2 separate regions of the Homo sapiens genome follow, and region 1 is linked to region 2. The links come from fine-mapping of genetic effects on gene expression. A gene starts in region 2. The other region holds a variant in brackets. All regions are shown on one strand. Distances are between the middles of the regions. Region 1 overlaps ARHGEF6 (Rac/Cdc42 guanine nucleotide exchange factor 6). Region 2 holds the start of ARHGEF6 (Rac/Cdc42 guanine nucleotide exchange factor 6).

The links. PIP is the estimated chance that this variant, and not a neighbour inherited with it, causes the effect.
Region 1: its variant is the best candidate, but not a certain one, in a credible set for the expression of ARHGEF6 in tibial nerve (GTEx, PIP 0.50).

The regions. Positions count from the first base shown.
Region 1 is chrX:136,713,944-136,723,978 of GRCh38, reverse strand. The region is part of intron 6 of ARHGEF6 (Rac/Cdc42 guanine nucleotide exchange factor 6); the gene reads left to right. Among named protein-coding and RNA genes, the nearest start is that of ARHGEF6, 62 kb to the left of the region's middle. The variant A/G (reference allele first, on the strand shown) is at 5,475.
Region 2 is chrX:136,776,064-136,786,098 of GRCh38, reverse strand. It overlaps ARHGEF6 (Rac/Cdc42 guanine nucleotide exchange factor 6), which reads left to right and starts at 5,167. Exons shown (of 22, transcript NM_004840.3): 1 at 5,167-5,381; 2 at 6,602-6,685. The coding sequence starts at 5,217. RefSeq lists an enhancer at 6,512-6,731.

The sequences.
Region 1 (10,035 bases), 62 kb after region 2:
AATACTATAGATAACCAAGTAAATATTTTATTTTTATTTTTATATTTTTTGAGACAGACCCTCCCTCTGTCGCCCAGCTGAAGTGCAGTGGCGCGATTTGATTTGGGCTCACTGCAACCTCCACCTCCCAGGTAAAAGCAATCTTCCTGCCTCAGCCTTCCAAGTAGCTGGGATTACAGGCATGAGCCACCATGCCCAGCTAATTTTTGTATTTTTAGTAGAGATGGGGGTTTCACCATGTTGGCCAGGCTGGTCTCAAACTCCTGGCCTCGAGTGATCTGCCTGCCTCGGCCTCCCAAAGTGCTGTAATTATAGGCATGAGCCACTCCCCCTGGCCCAAATAAATATTTTAAATAAAGCAATGTGCATATGAGCCTTACCTCCTCCTTTTTACTTAATAAAATATAGTACTGTTGAATTCTAGTGCATTTCTCTCCATTTCTATGAATTAAAAAAAATGAATATCAGTGCTGAGTATAAGTGATTACTTGAGGAACTGCAGTGAACAACAACACAGATGGACAAAGAGCTATCATGATGAACAAGCTTGAGTATTGAGGGCCATGACCCTGCATAAGGACTTGGAGTCAGAGAAAAAACAGAAGAGTTTTTATTGACAGGTGAGAAATTTGTGCTTTGTTTTTAAATAATAGCTTTACTGAGGTACAATTCACATAGCATAAAATTCACCATTTTAAAGTGTGCAATTCACTGTTATTAGTGTATTCACAGAGTTGCACAATGATCGCCACTATCTCATCTAATTTCACAACATTGTTATCACCCCACCAAAAAACCTTCTATCCATTAGCAGTCACTTCCCATTTCCCATTCCCTCCAGCCCTTGGCAACCACTAATCTACTTTCTGTCTGTATGGATTTTGCCTATTCTGGAAGTTTTACATACATGGAATTCTATAATGTGTGATATTTTGTGTTTGGTTTCTTTCACTTAGCATAATATTTTCAAGGTTCATCCATGTTGCAGAATGTATCAGTACTTCTTTCTTTTTATAGCTAAGTAATATTCCATTGTATGGTTAGACCAGCTTTTATTTATCTATTTATCAGTTGATGGACTTTGGGTTGCTGCCACTTTTTGGTTATTATTACAAATGCTGCTGTGAACATTCATGTGCAAGTTTTTGTGTGGACATATGTTTTCACTTCTTTAGGAGCAGAATTGCTGGGTCACATGGTAATTCTATGTTTGACTTTCTGAGGAATGGCCAAACTGTTTATCACAGTAGCAGTACCATTTTACATTCTTACCAGCAATTGTAAGAGTTTCAGTTTCTCTACATCCTCACCAACACTTGTTATTGTCTGCTTTTTTTTCTTTGTAATATAACCACCCTATTGAGTATCAAGTAGTATCTAATTGTAGTTTTGATTAGCATTTTCCTAATAGTTAATGATGTTGGGTATGCTTATTGGCCATTTGTATATCTTCTTTGGAGAAATTTCTATTCAAATTCTTTGCCAACTTTAATTGATTATTTTTGTTGTTGAGTTGTAATAGTTCTATATATATTGTGGATACTAGACTCTTATCAGATATATGATTTGCAAATATTTCTTCCATTCTATGAGTTGTCTTTTCACTTTCTTGATAATGTCATTTAACACACAAAAGTTTTTAATTTTGATGAATTCCAATTTACTTATTTTTGTTTTGTTTTGCTTTTTGTGTCACCCAAGAATCCATTGCCAAATTGAAAGTCATGAAGATTTCCTCCTCTGTTTACTTTAAGACTTTTGTAGATTTAACTCTGAAATCCATTTTGAGTTAGTTTTTGTATATGGTATGAGGTAGGGGTGTAAATTCTTTCTTTTGCATGTGAATATCCAGTTTTCTCAGCACCATTTGTTGAAAAAAAAGTTCTCTCCCCACTGAATGGTCTTTTTTTTTAATTGACAGATAAAATTATATGTATTAATTGTGTACAACATGATGTTCTGTCATGTTTAGTCATTGTGGAATGACTAAAGCTAGCTAATTAACACACATATTACCTCACAGAGTTATCATTTTTATGGTAAGAACAATTAACATTCACTCTCTAGGCATTTTTTAAGAGTACAATATATTGTTATTTACTATAGTCACAATGTTGCACAAGAGCTCTCTTGAACTTATTCCTCCTAACAGATGTTTCATATCCCTTGATCAACATCATCCCAACCAGCTCCCCCAACTTCCCCAGCCCCTTGTAACCACCATTCTATTATCTAGTTCTATGAGATCAACTTTTTAAGATTACACATATGATGAGATCATGTGGTATCTTTCTTACTATGCCTGACTTATTTCACTTAACATAATGTCTTCTAGGTTCATCCATGTTGTTGCAAATGGCAGGATTTTCATCTTTTTAATGACTGAATAGTATTCCATTGTGTTTTGTTTTGTTTTGAGACAGGGTCTTGCTCTGTCACTCAGACTGGAGTGCAGTGGTGTGATTCTGGCTCACTGCAACCTCTGCCCCCTGGACTCAAACAATCCTTCCACCTCAGCCTCCCAAGTAGCTGGGGCTACAGGGGTGCACCACCACACCTGGCTAATTTTTTAGTTTTTTGTAGAGACAGGGTCTCACCATGTTGCCGAGGCTGGTCTCAAACTCTTGAGCTCAAGCAATCTGCTCTCCCCAGCCTCCCAAAGTGCTGGGATTATAGGCATGAGCCACCATGCCCAGCCTCCATTGTGTTTTTATACCATATTTTCTCTGTCCATGCATCCGCTGATTTCATATTTTGGCTATCATGAATAATGCTGAAATGAACATGGGAGTGCAGATATCTCTTCAACATACTGGTTTTATTTTTATTTTTGGAATTTGAATCTGTCAATATCCACAAAATAACTTACTGAGATTTTGATTGGAATTATGTTGAATCTATAGATCAAGTTGGAAATAACTGACATCTTGATAATATTGAGTCTTTCTACCCATGAATATAGGATATCTCCCCATTTATTTAGTTCTTTGATTTCTTTTACCAGAGTTTTGTAGTTTTATTTGTATAGATCTTGTACATATTTTCTTAGATTTATACCTAAGTATTTCATTTTTAGAGGTGCTAATCTAAATATTATTTTTTTGTTTCAGATTTTGTTTATTGCTGATATAAAGGAAAATGATTGACATTTGTGTATTGACTTTGCATCTTGCAACCATGTTATAATCACTCATTAGCTCCAGAAATTTTTTTGATTTATTCAGATTTTCTACATATACAATCATGTCATCTACAAATAAAGACGGTTTTATTTCTTCCTTCCCAATGTGTATACCTTTTATTTTTTTCTTATTGCATTAGCTAGGACATTCAATATGATGTTGAAAAGGAGTGGTGTGAGGGAACACTCTTGTTTTGTTCCTAATCTTAGTAGGAAAGCATCTGGCTTCTTACCATTAAGTATGATGTTAGATGTCGGGGTTTTTTGTTAGCTTTTTTTTCCCTTTTTTTTTCGTAGCTGTTCTTTATCAAGTTGAGAAACTATTCCTAGTTTTCTGAGAATTAAAAAAAAATCATGAATGGATGTTGTATATTGTCAAATGCCTTTTCTGCATCTGTTGATACGATCATGTGATTTTCCTTCTCTAGCCTGTTGATGTGATAGATTACATTAGTGATTTTTTGGAATGTTGAACTAGTCTTGCATACTTTGTTAAATCACACTTGGCTGTGTTGTAGCATTCTTTTTATCTATTGCTGGATTTTATTTGCTAATATTTTGTTGATGATTTTTGTAACTATGTTCATTAGAGATATTGGTTTGTAGTTTTCTTGTAATGTCTTTGGTTTGGGTATTGGGATAATTCTGGCTTCATAAAATGAGTTAGGAAGTATGTATTCTCTCTGCTTCTGTGTTTTGGAAGAGATTGTAAAGAATTGATATAATTTCTTCCTTAAATGTTTAGTAGAATTTACCAGTGAACCTATCTGGGCTTAATGCTTTCTGTTTTGGAACGATGTTAATTACCAATTCATTTTCTTTACTAGATGTAGGCCTATTCAGATTATCTATTTCTTCTCTTGTGAGTGTTGGCAGATTGTATCTTTAAAAAGCTGGTCCATTTAATCTAGGTTATCAAATTTGTAGGCAGAGTTATTAATAATATTCCTTTAACATTATTTTAATGTCCATGGGATCGCTAGTGATATCCTGCCATTTCATTTCTGATACTAACAGTTTGTATCTTCTCTCTTTTTTTCAATGAAGTTCATCAATTTTGTTGATCTTTTCAAAGAGCCACCTTTTGGTTTTAACTTCCTCTACTGATTTTCTGTTTTCAATCTCATTGATTTCTGCCCTAATTTTTATTATTTCTTTTCTTCTGTGTGCTTTAGATTTAGTTTGCTCTTCTTTTTGTAGTTTCCTAGGGTGGAAGTTTAGATTATTTATTTTAGATCTTTCTTCTTTCCTAATATATGCATTCAGTGCTATAAATTTCCCTACAAGCACTGCTTTCACTGCATTCCGCACATTTTAATGTTCTTCTTTCATTTCCATTTAGTTCAAAATATTTTAAAATTTCTCTTGAAATATCTTTTTAGAAAATAAATGTATTTTGAGATGTGTTGTTTAATCTCCAAGTATTTTTCTGTTATTGATTTCTAGTTTGATTACATTGTCGTCTGAGATCATAGATTGCATGATTTCTATTCTTTTAAATTTGCTAAGGTGGGTTTTATGGATCATAATGTGGTCTGTCTTGAGGAATGTTTCATGTAGGCTTGAGGAGAATATGTAATCTGCTGTTGTTGGATAAAGTAGTCTATAGATGCCAACTCTATCCAGTTGCTTGATGGTACTATTGAGTTCTAGTATGTCCTTACTGATTTTCTGCTTGTTGGATCTCTCCATTTCTGATAGAGGGGTATTGAAGTCTCAACTACAATAAATTTATCTATTTCTACTTGAAGTTCTAGCAGTTTTTGCCTCACTTTTTTTTTTTTTTTTTTTTTACCAAGTATTAAATCACAGGAGGAATTTACTCCAAGAATGCCAGTCAACATACTGGACAATGTCTTTAACTATAGTTTACAACAATAGTTTACAACTATGATGGCCTTTTATATAGCTACTTCTAATGTCAGTTCTCACTGAAATGCATAATATTAAAATATAACTCAGCCAAAGAAAATGTTTCTTTTGTTCATTTCTTTTGTTCCTTTGTTCATTTCTTGGAATAGCAATTAGCAAGTACCAATGTGTGTAAAATGCCTAAAAAATACACAATGCCATTGTCAAATATGTTTGAAAAACACAATATCATATTGGCCCTGCTTAGAGATTCAAAATATATTTATCATACTAAAAGTTCTAAAAAGCTATGCATAAAGAAATTTGTATAAATTATTTAACAGTTTTTCATAATTGTTATTGTCATTCTTTGGGAAGTTAGATATATCAATATACTTTCAGATTTATCAATATACTTTATTCACCTGGTCTTTGAATGAGA[A/G]TGGGTTAAATAAGCAAATTTATTGTCATTTGCACTGACAAGGAACTAGAGTGTTAATTTTTTTTTATTATTGATTGAAGGGAGAACGCTTCCACTGCAATTTTGATGGAAGAGTTTTCATTTGATTATAAAAGTTGTGCCTCATGTAGTTTGATTCTGTTTTTAGGCACATACATATTAAGGACTGTTATGTCTTGTTGGAGAACTGACCTCTTTATTATTATGTAATGCCTCTTTTATTCCTGATAATTTTTCGTGCTCTAATGTTTGCTCTGTCTAAAATTAACATAGCCACTCCAGCTTTCTTTTGATTAGTATGAACATGATATCTCCTTTTTCATCCCTTTACTTTTAATTTATAAGTGTCTTTATATTTAAATTGAATTTCTTATTAACAGCATATGGTTGGGTCTTATTTTTTGATTCACTCTGAAAATGTCTGTCTTTTCATTGGTACATTTAGACCACTGACATTTAAAGTGATTATTGATATAGGTGGATTAATGCCTACCATACTTGTTACTGTTTTCTATTTGTTGCCCTTTTCGTTGTTCGCTTTTTGTCTTCCACATTTTTTTGCTTTTTGTTTTAATTGAGCATTTTATATGATTCCATTTCTCTTTTTTCACTTATCAGTTATATTTCTTTAAGAAAAACATTTTTAGTGGTTGCTCTATGCCTTGATAGCTAGTCCCAGTTCACTTTCATATAATACTATACAAAGATACATACTATATTCGCAGGTAGTGCAAGTACCTTATAATAACATAGTATTCCTAATTATTACCTCCCATCCCTTGTATGATCGCTGTCACTCATTTTACTTACACATAAATACACATTAGTATATACACACACATAATCAAATACATTGCTGCTATTATTATTTTGAATAAACTGTTATCTATTAGGTCAATTAAAAATAAGAAAAAAGTTTTTATTTTATCTTTACTTATCCCTTCTCTAATATTCTTTCCTTCTTCATGTAGATTCAGATTTCTGACCTATATTGTTTTTCTTCTCTGTGAAGAACTTCTTTTAACATTTCTTGCAAGGCAGGTCTAATGGTGACAGTTTCCCTCAGTTTTTGTTTGTCTGAAAAAGTCTTGATATGTCTTTCACTTTTGAAGGATAATTTCACAAGATACAGAACTCAAGGTTAGTGGGTTTTTCTCTCAACACTTTAAATATTTCACTCAACTCTCCTCTTGCTTGCATTGTTTCTGAGGAGAGGTCAGATGTAACTTTTATTTGAACTTCTGTATAGATAAACTGTTTGTTTCCCATGGCTTCTTTCAATACTTTTTTCTTTATTTTTGATTTTCTGGAGTTTGAATATCACATGATTAGAATTTTCTTTTGCATTTATCCTACTTGGTCTCTGAGCTTCCTGGATCTGTGATTTGGTGTCTGACTAATTTTGAGTAAATTCTCAACCACTATTGTTTCAAATATTTCTTCTATTATTTTCTCTTTCCTCTCCTGATATTTCCACATTACATGAATGTTGCACCTTTTGTAGTTGTCCCACAGTTCTTTCATATTCTCTTCTATTTTTACCCCCAGTCTTTTTCCTCTTTGCTTTTTGGTTGTAGCAGTTTCTATTGACATATTCTCAAGCTCAAAGATTCTTTCCTCAGCCATGCCCAGATCACTATTGAGTCCATCATGTGCAGGCATTCTTCATTTCTGTTACAGTGTTTTTAATCTCTAGCATTGCTTTTTGATTCTTTCTTAGAATGTCTGTTTCTCTGCTTATAATATCCATCTATTCTTGCACGTTGTCTACTTTTTCTGTTAGAGTCCTTAGTATATTAATCACAGTTACTTAAAAACACTGGTCTGATAATTCTAACATTCCTGTGTTACCTGACTTAAGTTCTGATGCTTGCTTTGTCTCTTCATACTGTATTTTTTGCCTTTTAATATGCCTTGTAAATTGTTGTTGGAAGCCTGACATGATGTACTGGGTAAAGGAACTGTGGTAAATAATCCTTTAGTAATGTGGTGGTAAGGTGTAGAAGGAGGGGAAACATTCTATGTTTCCAGATTAGGTCTCAGTTTTTAATGAGCTTGTGTCCCTGGACTGTGAACTTCACCCGTGCTTCCTAGTTCTCCCGCTTAGGTGGGACAGGATGGCTAGAAAGGGCTGGAGTTGGGTTATCTTCCTTCCCCCATGTGGAAGGCTAGAGCTGGCTGGAGTTGCTTATTGACCTTCCCCCATAACAGTTAGCATCTGATAAAAATTCAATAGGTTATGCTCAGGCCGGGCGCAGTGGCTCACGCCTGTAATCCCAGCACTTTGGGAGGCCAAGGCAGGCGGATCACCTGAGGTCAGGAGCTCGAAACCAGCTTGACCAACATGGTGAAACCCCCATCTCTACTAAAAATACAAAATTAGCTGGGCGTGATGGCGCATGCCTGTAATCCCAGCTACTAGGGAGGCTGAGGCAGGAGAATGGCTTGAACCCAGGAGGTGGAGGTTGTAGTGAGCCGAGATTGTGCCATTGCACTCCAGCTTGGGCAACAAAAGCGAAACTGCGTCTCAAAAAACAAAAACAGAAACAAACAAACAAAGCAAACAAACAAACAAAAAATAGGTTATGCTCTGGTAAAATAGTTTCTCCTGAGGGCAGACCTTGTTAAGAAGAATAGAGTGCTCTGGCATATTCAAAAAGGCAACTTTTTCCCTCCCTCTGCCTGAAGCATGAGGGTATTTTCCTCTAATCTTCACTGAGAGAAACTGGAGCTTAAACTCACAAAAGTGTGAGTGTGCTGTCCTAATATTGGGCCCCTGGAGTTCCTAACTCTCAGACTTGCCTGTACAGAGCCCCCAGAAGTTTGTCAATTACAGTGTAGGTTTTTCTGCCCTAGTGCTGGTTCCTGTGGAGGCTTCTGCTTGTGGACTTCTGCTCTGGTAATTTGTGATTCTCTTTATCTGCCTGTTTCTCCAATTTTTGGAGTAGCAGTTTTCCCTGTGACCTCTCTTTTCTGACAGATTTAAGAGAAAACGATGGTTTATTTCAGTTTGTTTAGCTATTTCCTTCCTGTTAGGATGGAGTAATGACTTCTAAGCTCCTTACATGTCAGACTGAAAAATGAAAGTCTTTTTTTTCTTTTTTAAAATAGGCATTTATAAGTATATAGTTTTCTTTAAGCACTGTTTAACTGCACCCCATGAGTTTTTGTATGTTGTGTTTTCATTTTCATTCATCTCAAAGTAGTTTCTAATTTCCATTCTCGCGCTTGGACTTTCTATAGAGGGGAATATTTCTATTCCATTACTGGGTTAATTTCCGAGAACATCAATACCTCCAGAACCCTGCATTTACACTTTTAGAGGGTAGTTTCTGAGGAATAGAGGAACTGAAAGTAGACATGAGTGGCTGGGTATAGGGGTTACAATTTAAGCCCGAGCTTTTGAAGCCATCCTGTGTTCTTCTAAGCCAGTGATTCTCAACTGGGGGCAATATTGCCTTTCAGGTGACATTTGGCAATGTCATGGCAATGATATGGGCATTCCATCACAACAAAGACTTATCTGGTTTGAAAGGTTAATAATGTTGCTATTGAGAAACCCTTTTTTAACCCTTTAAATTGGTAGGTCTGTTTCCCACTTACCCAGCACCTATCTGTACAGTGTGTCACTACATCTTCATAATGGTCCCCCAGGTAGGTGCAATATCATAATCTGAGATGATGTAAGCAAAGTTTTAAACTGAAGCAACCTCTCAGTCAGCAGCAGAGTCAGGACTACCACCCTGCACTCCAGTGGTTTCCCAGAGAACCCACGGTTACCAGGATCTCCACTTGTTTTGACCATTCCACCTTTCAAAAGCAGATCATCATGCATTGTCTTGTGAGTATATGGCTGGCATATTGGTAGGCTAATACACTTCTCCTAGTTAAGGACACTTCACTCTGTCTTGTAACTCTCTGTTTAATGTCTCTGCAAATACAGTATAAACTCCCTGTGGGCAGCACGGCAGTTGGCAGAATAGGCACTCAGTCGATTTTGTTGAATGAATTAGAATATATGAAAGAAAATATACCAGAATGTTAACTGGGTTGTCCCTAAGAGCTTAAATGAAGGTTTTTAAAATTATTATTATACTTTAAGTTCTAGGGTACATGTGCACAATGTGCAGGCTCGTTCCATAGGTATACATGTGCCATGCTGGCCCACTGCACCCATCAACCCGTCATTTACATTAGGTATTAAATGAAGGTTTTACCTGTCACTAGAAGAGGCTTGGAAATGGGTTGTGACATGACCCTAGAACTGGTAGGGGAAGAGAAATTGTGATCCCCCATATTGGTTGTTTTGCCTATAGGATTCTAATTACATTAATAATAATAATGATAATTTTTATTTCTCTTGTTAAATTCCTCACACTTCAGCCTACTTTGTTCTTTGAATTGTTTATGGTAGCACCTTTTGCCTTTAAGAAAAGACTAGTTTTAACTCTGCTTAAAAATTCACTGTATCCTCAGATTTTGTTCCCCAAAGGTCTTATCACAAACATAACTTAAACAAAAATCTCTTGTGATGTTTGTTATC
Region 2 (10,035 bases):
TATATAACAAACTTTCACAAACCAATAACAAAAAGACAAACAACCCAATAGAAAAATGGGCAGTAGGAAGGAGTATCTCACAGAAGAGGAAACATATATGGCCAATAAGCATATTAAATGCTCAACCTCATTAGTAATCATAGAAATATAAATTTCATACCCATGAAATAACAAAATTTTAAGTCTGAAATATCAAGTCTTACCTATGACATGGAGCAATGGAAAATCATACCCTGCTTGTGGGAATGTAAATTTGTATAATCATTTTAGAAAAAAAAAGATTTGCAGATACCTATGAGGTCAAGGAATTGTAGTGGGAGTAACAAGCAAGCTGGAAAGATGGTAGGTTGTTTAGAAAATATAATGTTGGGTCGGGCACAGTGGCTCATGCCTGTGATCCCAGCACTTTGGGAGGCTGAGTCGGGTGGATCACAAAGTCAGGAGTTCGAGACCAGCTTGACCAACACGGTGAAACCCCGTCTCTACCAAAAAGGCAAAAAAAATTGGCCAGGCCTGGTGGTGCGCGCCTGTGGTCCCAGCTGCTCAGGAGGCTGGGGCAGGAGAATCGCTTGAACCTGGGAGGTGGAGGTTGCAGTGAGCCAAGATGGCGCCACTGCACTCCAGCCTGGGTGACAGAGCGAGACTCTGTCTCGAAAAAAAAAAAAAAAAAAAAAACTAATGTTGGAATTCATGACTTAGGAGACAGAGAAATTTGTGTGATAAAAAAGTACAAGGTGTAACCTTCCAAGAGGTTAGCTAAAGTGGAGAGGAAGTATACATTTAAGATAACAAGGTGTATCAGTTGGTGTCCAATCAGAACATAGACACTACATAGTATTTTTTTTTTTTTCTTGAGATGGAGTCTGGCTCTTGTCGCCCAGGCTGGAGTGCAATGGCACGATCTCAGCTCACTGCAAACTCTGACTCCCAGGTTCAAGCGATTCTCCTGCCTCAGCCTCCAGAGTAGCTGGGATTACAGATGCCCGCCACCATGCCTGGCTAATTTTTGTATTTTTATTAGAGACTGGGTTTCACCATGTTGGCCAGACTGGTCTCAAACTCCTGACCTCAGGTGATTTGCCCACCTTGGCCTCCCAAAGTACTGGGATTACAGGTGTGAACCACCGTGCCCAGCCTACTACATAGTAATTTTAACAAGAAGAGTTTAACATAAAGAATTAACAATAACAGGGGATTGGAGTGTTGAAGAATTGGTTAGTAATAAATAAAGGAAACTCTAAAAAGTATGGGATAGCAGATATAAATAGCAGACAATATAAAAATAATATGTAATGGCCGATACCTCTAGAGCTGTGATAACCCTCCTCTCCACCCACGGTCGAGATCCAGGCCTTATTGGAGAAGTTGCTCTGGTGCTGAGTTGGTGGAACTTGTTGGATGTACATTCTCTGGAACTTGCTGAAATATACCCCTCTACGGTGCTGGTTCACATGGAAGGTGTCTGTCTCATCAGAGATTCTTTGCTGCCTAAACACTCAAGGGTAGTGCCTGGGGAGGTTGCTACCTACTGTTTGTTGGGAAAACCAGTGCTGCAGAAGGTGGGCAATAGGAAAGCTGGGAGCTCAGCAGGAGCTTGTGGAGTGAGCGCACAGAAAACAGGAAGTAAAACCCCTTCTTCCTGCAATGTCTCTCCACCACTGCCTACTGATAAAACTTTGTATCATGCCAGCTGGCAAAGTCAGAAATATTTCAAGGTCCCAGGTCCATTTCACAGAATAGGCATAAAGGGGAAATGAGAGGTAATAAATTGATTACAGGTTGAGAAGTTCAAGGAACTGAGAGGTCTTGATGTTGGATTGTTGTTCTTGTGGATATTGAAATGACCCAAGTGTTGGCAGAAATTAGAGTGGTGTAGAAGGTTAGAGACCAATAAACTCATTTCTCTAAGTGTGACCTTGGTCTATCTGCATCAGAATCAAGTGGGATACTTTGATAACACAAATTCCTTTTTCCCACTGCAGATCTTCTGAACTGGAGTATCTGGGAAGAGAGCTCCCAAATATTCTTTTTTAGTAAGTGCCTTAGTAGATTTGAAATGAAAGAGAATCGGTTAGTAACATTTTAAACACACAAAACTAAATAGTAAAACAGGTACCAGTGTACCCAGCATTCAGTCTTAACAAATGTTCACATTTGCCTTATTTCCTGAAGATCTTTTGATTTTTCATGAAATGTTACCTATTTTAGCTTAAGTTCCACTCTCACCTTCCTTTCTCCTTTATGCCTCACAGGAGATGATCATATGAACATTGTTTTTTGTCAATTCCTGCTTTAGGCAATAGAGAGCCTTTGAGGGTTTTTGAACAGGGGTATTAACACTAGAGGTGTTTTTGGAAAATCAACCCAAATGTGCCCTGTTAGAGAGTTCATTAGGATGAGAGGATGGAGGTGGAAAGCCCTTGAAGAGGCAGGTTCAGTGGCCCAGAGGGTGTGGTACTGAGGATCTGAGGTAGGGTGAGAGATCTTTGCTTTTTTTTCTCATGCTCTTGTGTGAAGCCTGCTCTTTGTGTTGCTGTGACCCCCAGTCTTTGAATTCCCCCTCTTCCCCTATTCCCTCAGTTCATCAGCTCCTTTCTAGCTTCATTTGAGTCCCTAACCAGCCTGGGTTTCATGGGTACCCATTTCACCTATATGCTTGCCACTGCCCTGGAATTCCTTGCTTTGTTGACATTTTACCACACCAACTGTAACTTCCAATCTTTATACAAATAGAACTGGTTCTTTTGCCTTGAGGCAGTGGCCTTGCCATTCTGATATACTTTATTACTCATAGTAATATTTGCTATAGTGAGTGTCCAAAATGAGGCAGAGTTTTATCCAGATGACCTTGGTGAACTCAAGACTGTTTTGGAGGAGGCTGGGTTCACAAAACTTACTCAGGCTTTGTTCTTCATCAGAAGATGTAAGTGATACCTCAATAATACTGCCAGATTTTGTTTGTCTGTAGAGTAAAATTTTGATGAGCAGTTGTGAAAACTGTTCAGATGACATATAAAAATGTGTTTAAGTTCGTCAGATTTGGGAATTTTATTTATCAACAAATGTATTCTGTTTTTATTTCCATTACATAGATTTGGCCATGGGTCAACGTCAATGAAAACTTTTGATTGATTATACTTATTTTGCTTAAGTCACAAGTACATCAAGCAAACCTTGTTATAGAACTATGGACAGACACAATAACATGAATGAGTATGAAAATGATGATGTTGAGTTAAGAAGCCAGAAAAAAGATAGTACCATACTGTGTACTTCCATTTATATAAGATTCTTGAAAATGCAAACTAATCTATAGACACTGAAAATAGATTGGTGGTTGCCTGGCATTTGGAGGCAAAGAGGAAAGAAAGAATTGAAAGGGCACGAGGACAATTTTGGGGGTGATGGAAAGGCTTATCTGGATTGCATTTGTGTGATTGTATCAAAGATGTATGTATATGTCAAAATTCATTAAATCATATATATGCAGTTCCTTATGTGTCAATTACAGCTTAATAAAATGGTAAAAATCATTAACAAGAAAAAATGTTTGTTTTAAGCCATTTAAACCAACCAACAAACAAAAAATCCTTGCTATAATCAGTTACTGTCTATATCAGGGACACCATCTGAATACATTCATTTATTCATTCAGCATTTTTTAACATCTACTGTGTATACCTGGCAGTCTGCTGGTAACACAGTGTTAAATAAAAAAAAACAAGACCCCGAGTTTAGGAAGTTTACATTCTTGTGGAGGAGTCAGATCATCAGATCAACAAGTGATAATAGTAAAGTGTGACAAGTGTCCTGACAGAGCAAGAAAGGGCAGCTTTGAAAATGTTTAGTAGGGTTATCTAAGCTGATTCTTTGGTAGTAGATGCCTGAAGCTGTGTTGAAAAGAATTCTGAGGCTTAGTAGGAAAGAGCTATACATGATCTGATGTCTCCCATGCACGAGGAGAGGTAATCATGGTAAGTGCCACACATTTGCCAACATAGGGTTATACTATTAAAGTTGGCCTTATCATAAATTTCCCAATAGTATGCCTATTTCAAGTGGTTCTGAAAATGTTTGAGAATGATGAAGATCTCTTGTTATAGACAGTTTTTTTTTCAGAGCAGTATTTTAAGTGCAAAGTGTTTTTTTGTTGTTGTTGTTGTTGGGAAAATAAGAATCTTCCATATTGTAGTGTAGACAGAGGACAAGTGCTCTTTTGTTCTCAAACATTCTATTTTTTCAAGTGTATTTTACCCACTTATGTGACTGAGTCTGAGCCTTTGCTAAGGGTACTGCAGCTGGATTATGTAGTGGAACCAGGTCCAGAAAAAGAATTGCTAAAGAATGCAAGTAAACAGGATGTCAGATGTTATCCTTAGCCTATTTCCCTAAACATAGCTTTTTGGCTGCAAAGTAAAATGCCATTCTTCTAGCTTCTGCTTATACACAGTGATGGCTGACAGCAGGCATAATCTTCGTTTGCTTGGCACGTTGTCACCATGCAACTCAACGTGTTTTGCAAGGAATGATCGTGACACACCATCTCTGGGAGATACTATGAGGACATCCGGCTATTTCTTGGAAGAATTTTCTGTCTACCTTCTTTGAGCCCTGTTGTGCCAGCACATCTCCCCATGAGGCTCAGATCTGTCTGACCTAAGAGCCAGTTGGCATCGTCCTCCTAACAGAAGCCAGATTTTCACTGGGGCTAGACTATTTATTGACAGTGTTTTCCCAGACTGGCCCATGAGTGTCTCATTTCCAAGGTCCCCTGAAGTGCTGGCTCACCTCTGTTTCCCAAAGCACTTGCTTGCTTGTCTCTCCTCCCTCCCCAGCATCCTTTTCACTTTCTTCCCTTATAACTTCTTGCACTCTGTGTGCGTGTGTGTGTATGCGTGTGTGCATGTGCGTTTCTTCTTTTTTTTTATCCTAACGAATTTGTTTTGCAGGTTTTGAAAAGGAAAAACCAGCGTTATCCAGGATTGTTAAATTAATTCTTATCTGTTTCCACATCTTGGACCGTGATCTCTGTGGTTTTAAAATCCCATATTTTGAGTGGGTTCCGCTGTTGTTTAAGAAAAGTTGCTTTAAACCTTTGCTCTGCAAGCACCCGAAGAGAACTCATAAAAAGGAAGACAACAGCAGATGCAATCGCGGATGTGGCTTAGTCCTTGCAGCTGCCCCAGAGTGCTGTTTGGAGTGTACCGTCCTCAGTAATGAATCCAGAAGAACAAATCGTGACATGGCTTATATCTTTGGGAGTTTTAGAGTCCCCTAAAAAGACCATCTGTGATCCGGAGGAGTTTTTAAAGTCCTCGCTGAAAAATGGGGTAGTTCTGTGCAAACTGATCAACAGACTCATGCCTGGCTCTGTGGAAAAGGTAAGGGAAATTTGCAGTCTCTTTGGGATTGCTTATCACCAGAGAGCAGCAATCATGTAACTCTTGAGATTTTTCTATTTCCCAGGCCATGGGAATCTCCTACTTTAATATTTTTCTAAGAGTTAGACATTCTTTCTTACTGTTTTTGTAGTTTGAAAATGTAAGAAAATGAAACGTTATTCTTTAGTAATTGGCCCCCAAATTGTAGTATAGGGAAAACCTGTGACACCACTGGCAACAAGGGACAAGGAGAACACTCATATCACAAGCTTGCTCTATCATGGAGATGCATGTTACATCTCCTTGTGTACCGAGGACATGTTTTGAACTTGGGGTACTTATGAGTCTGTGGAAAAATAGAATGATTTATAACAGATCTTGGTGGTGTTTATTGGCAGTTTGATTAAAATCAGTGTAGATTTCCTTTTAGAAAAATCCATTGAAGGAGAGACTATATAGCAACTAGGAAAAAAATAATTCAAAATGTCACATAAAGTTTGTAAAAGCAATAGAAACCAGATATATGTTTCGAATGCAATGTGCGTTCAAAGTGAAACTAACTTTACTCTCTTTAAAACAATTCAAGATTTTTAATAGCTGGAAATCCACGATCACGAGAATAGATAATTTCTAAAGTAGGCACTTTAAGTAAGCTTAAAGGTACAATTTTACATTTACTTTCTTAAGGTCATCATGGACTGTGAGCATAGCACTTTTGCCTTCATGAGCCAGTTTGTATTTTTATTGAGCAAATAAATTTACTTATAATTTCTTAAACTTGAGAAAGAGTGATTAAATAGTGATAAAATGTAAAGAAGTGTGGTCAAATGTAGAGGGGAAATAGAATTTTATTAAATTATCAGGGGGAAGGAGGAGAGAGAGGTACCAGGGATTGCTTCCTTTCTTGAAAGCAAGAACTAAGCTCAAAAAACTGTCTTGGTCTCCCTAATTTGCCATCAGCACACTGGAACAGAAGGCATGAGAGAAAGCTTGTAAGTAGACATGGCTTGCCACTAAAGGTTTGGTGACATTTGAAACAAAGATCGACCGTTTAGATTTTTGCATCACTTCCTTCAGTGGTTATTTCTCTTCCTGGATTGACAGCAGTGTTGCCCCACACCTTAAGAGGCCTGCTTTCTCTAGTTATCAGCAAATGATGAGTATACTTTGCTTGGCATGGGATGACAATCTCCAAGTGACATTTCACTGTGTTCCTCTAGTTTTGTCTGGATCCCCAAACTGAAGCTGACTGCATCAACAACATCAATGACTTCCTGAAAGGATGTGCAACCCTCCAAGTGGAAGTAAGCCTACCCCGGGTGCCTTCCCTGTTGTCATCGTTTTTTTGCTCTGCTAATCAAGATTGGTAGTAAGAGTACTTGTTTATTTTCACTGTCATTGGCCACTGAGTTAAACAGAGGTAGCAGACTGGTGGTCCCCAGTAATGGATTGCTAGTCTGTCTTTTCCAGAAACCAGTTCCAAGCAAAACAAAACAAAATAAAAACTCACACAATAATGCCTTTTATATACAGCATCCAAGCCCTGTAAACAGGCTTCCAGTGACAGAGCTTGTGTGGGTGTGTTCTCCTACTAAGGGGAACCAAAAGTGGGCCACTGACTGTTGGAGAGGGTCACTGTAATCCTCCCAAGTTGAGAAAAGAGGAAAGGCCATTGTTACTCCTTCCCATTAACACTTTAGAACAGAGGCCTTGAAAAGCTGAGAGAACTTGGCTTTGAGGTAGAAATTGTATAGTAAATTTTGTGGCATTATTTTATATTATATGGATCCCTACAGTGTGTATAGGAAGTGTTACTGAAAGGGAGGTGATACTTCCACACGAGCATCAAGTTGCTTAACTTCTCTGTGCTTCAGTATTTTTATCTGTAAAACGGACATGCTAATAGCCAACTCATGGGATTGCTTTAAGAATCAAATAAGGCCGGGCATGATGGCTCATGCCTTTAATCCTAGGCCAAGGCAGAAGGATTGCTATAGCCCAGGAGTTCGAGACCAGCCTGGACAGTATGGTGAAATGGTGACTCTACAAAAAATACAAAAATTAGGCAGGCGTGGTGGCTTGTGCCTGTAGTCCCAGCTACTCGGGAGGCTGAGGTGGGAGGATCGCTTGAACCCAAGAGGTGGTGGAGGTTGCAGTGAGCTGTGATTGCACCACTGCACTCCAGCCTGAATGACAGAAAGAGACCTTGTCTCGAAAAAAAAAAAAAGAATCAAATAAGATACTGCATAATAATTTAGGGCCAAGAGCTCCAACCTTGTAAGATCTATGAGATAATTTATGTAGAGTCCTTAGCATAGGGCCTGGGACAGAAGAAGTACTCTATATTAATAGACTAGTATTAGTCATATTATCCGTGGACAAATAGTTGTGGTTTAAGCATGGACTGTGGTGCTAAACTTTTTGGGTTCAAATCTCAGTTCTCTCTTACTAGCAGCTTTGTGACCTTGGGCATGTTACTTAACTATGACTCTAGGCCTCAGTCTTCCTACCTACAAAATGGGAATAATAGTGGCACCGAATTCATAGGACTCGTGTGACCTTTTTAAAAAATATTATTTCAATAGTTTGGGAGGAACAGGTAGGTGGTGTTTGGTTACATGGATAAGTTATTCAGTGGTGATTTCTGAGATTTTGGTGCATCCATCACTTGAGCAGTGTACACTGTACCCAATGTAGAGTCTTTTATCCCTCACCCTACTCCCACCCTTCCCCCTGAGTCCCCAGAGCCCATTACATCATTCCTATGCCTTTGCATCCTCATAGCTTAGCTCCCCCTTATAAGTGAGAACATATGATGTTTGGTTTTCCATTCCTGAGTTACTTCCCTTAGAATAATGGTCTCCACCTCCACCCAGGTTGTCGTGAATGCCATTATTTTGTTCCTTCTTATGGCTGAGTAGTATTCCATGGTGTGTGTGTGTGTGTGTGTGTGTGTATGTATACATATTATATATATGTATATTACATTTTCTTTATCCACTCTTTGGCTGATGGGCATTTAGGCTGGGTCCATAACTTTGCAATTGCAAATTGTGCTACTATAAATATGTGTGTGCAAGTGTCCTTTTCATATAGTGACTTCTTTTCCTCTGGGTAGATACTCAGTAGTAGGATTACTGGATCAAATGGTAGTTCTACTTTTACTTCTTTAAGGAATCTCCATACTTAAGGTTTTCCATAGTGGTTGTACTAGTTTACATTCCCACCAGCAGTGTAGAAGTGTTTCCTTTTCACCACATTCATGCCAACATCTAATATTTTTTGTTTTTTTTTTAATTGTGGCCATTTCTGCAGGAGTGAGGTGATATCTCATTGTGGTTTGATTTGCATTTCCAGTGCTTAGTGATGTTGAGCATTTTTTCATATGTTTCTTGGCCATTTGTATATGTTCTTTGAGAATTGTCTATTCATGTCCTTAGCCCACTTTTTGATGGGATTATTTGTTTTTTGTTTTTGTTTTGTTTTGTTTTTTGAGACTGAGTCTCACTCTGTTGCCCAAGCTGGAATGCAGTGGTGTGATCTTGGCTCACTGCAACCTCTACCTCCCTGGTTCCAGCGATTCTCCTGCCTCAGCCTCCTGAGTAGCTGGGAATACAGGCGCCCGCCACCATGCCTGGCTAATTTTTGTGTTGTTAGTAGAGACAGGGTTTCACTATGTTGGCCAGGCTGGTCTCAAACTCCTGACCTCAGGTGATCCGCCCGCCTGGGTCTCCCAAAGTGCTGGGATTACAGGCGTGAGCCACCGCACCCGGCCTATTTGTTTATTTTTATTTCTACTTTATTTATTTATTTATTTATTTATTTATTTATTTATTTATCTATTTATTTATTTTTGCTGATTTGTTTGAGTTCCTTGTCGATTCTGGATATTAGACCTTTGTCAGATGCATAGTTTGGGAATATTTTCTCCCACATTGTGAGTTGTCTGTTTACTCTGCTGATTATTTATTTTGCTGTGCAGAAATTTTTTAGTTTAATTAGGTCCCATCTATTTATCTTTGTTTTTGTTGCCTTTGTTTTTGAGTTCTTGGTCATGAACTCTTTGCCAAAGCCAATACCTAGAAGAGTTTTTCCAATGTTGTCTTCTAGAATTTTTATGATTTCAGGTCTTAGATTTAAGTCCTTGGTCCATCTTGAGTTGATTTTTGTAGAGAGGTGAGAGATGAGAGATGCGGTGAGAGATGAGGATCCAGGTTCATTCTCCTACATGTGGCTTGCCAAATATCCCAGCACCATTTGTTGAATAGGGTGTCCTTTCCCCAGTTTATGTTTTTGTTTGCTTTGTCAAAGACCAGTTGGCTGTAAGTATTGGGCTTTATTTCTGGGTTCTCTATTCTGTGTCATTGGTTTATGTGCCTATTTTTATACCACTACCATGCTATTTTGGTAACTACAGGCTTGTAGTATAGTTTGAAGTCGGGTAATGTGATGCCTCTAGATTTGTTCTTTTTGTTTAATCTTGCTTTGGCTATGTGTGTTCTTTTTGGGTTTCATATGAATTTTAGGATTGTTTTTTCTAGTTCTGTCAAGAATTATTATGGTATTTTGATGGGAATTGCGTTGAATTTGTAGATTGTTTTTAGCAGTATGGTCTTTTTCACAATATTGATTCTACCCATCCATGAGCATGGGA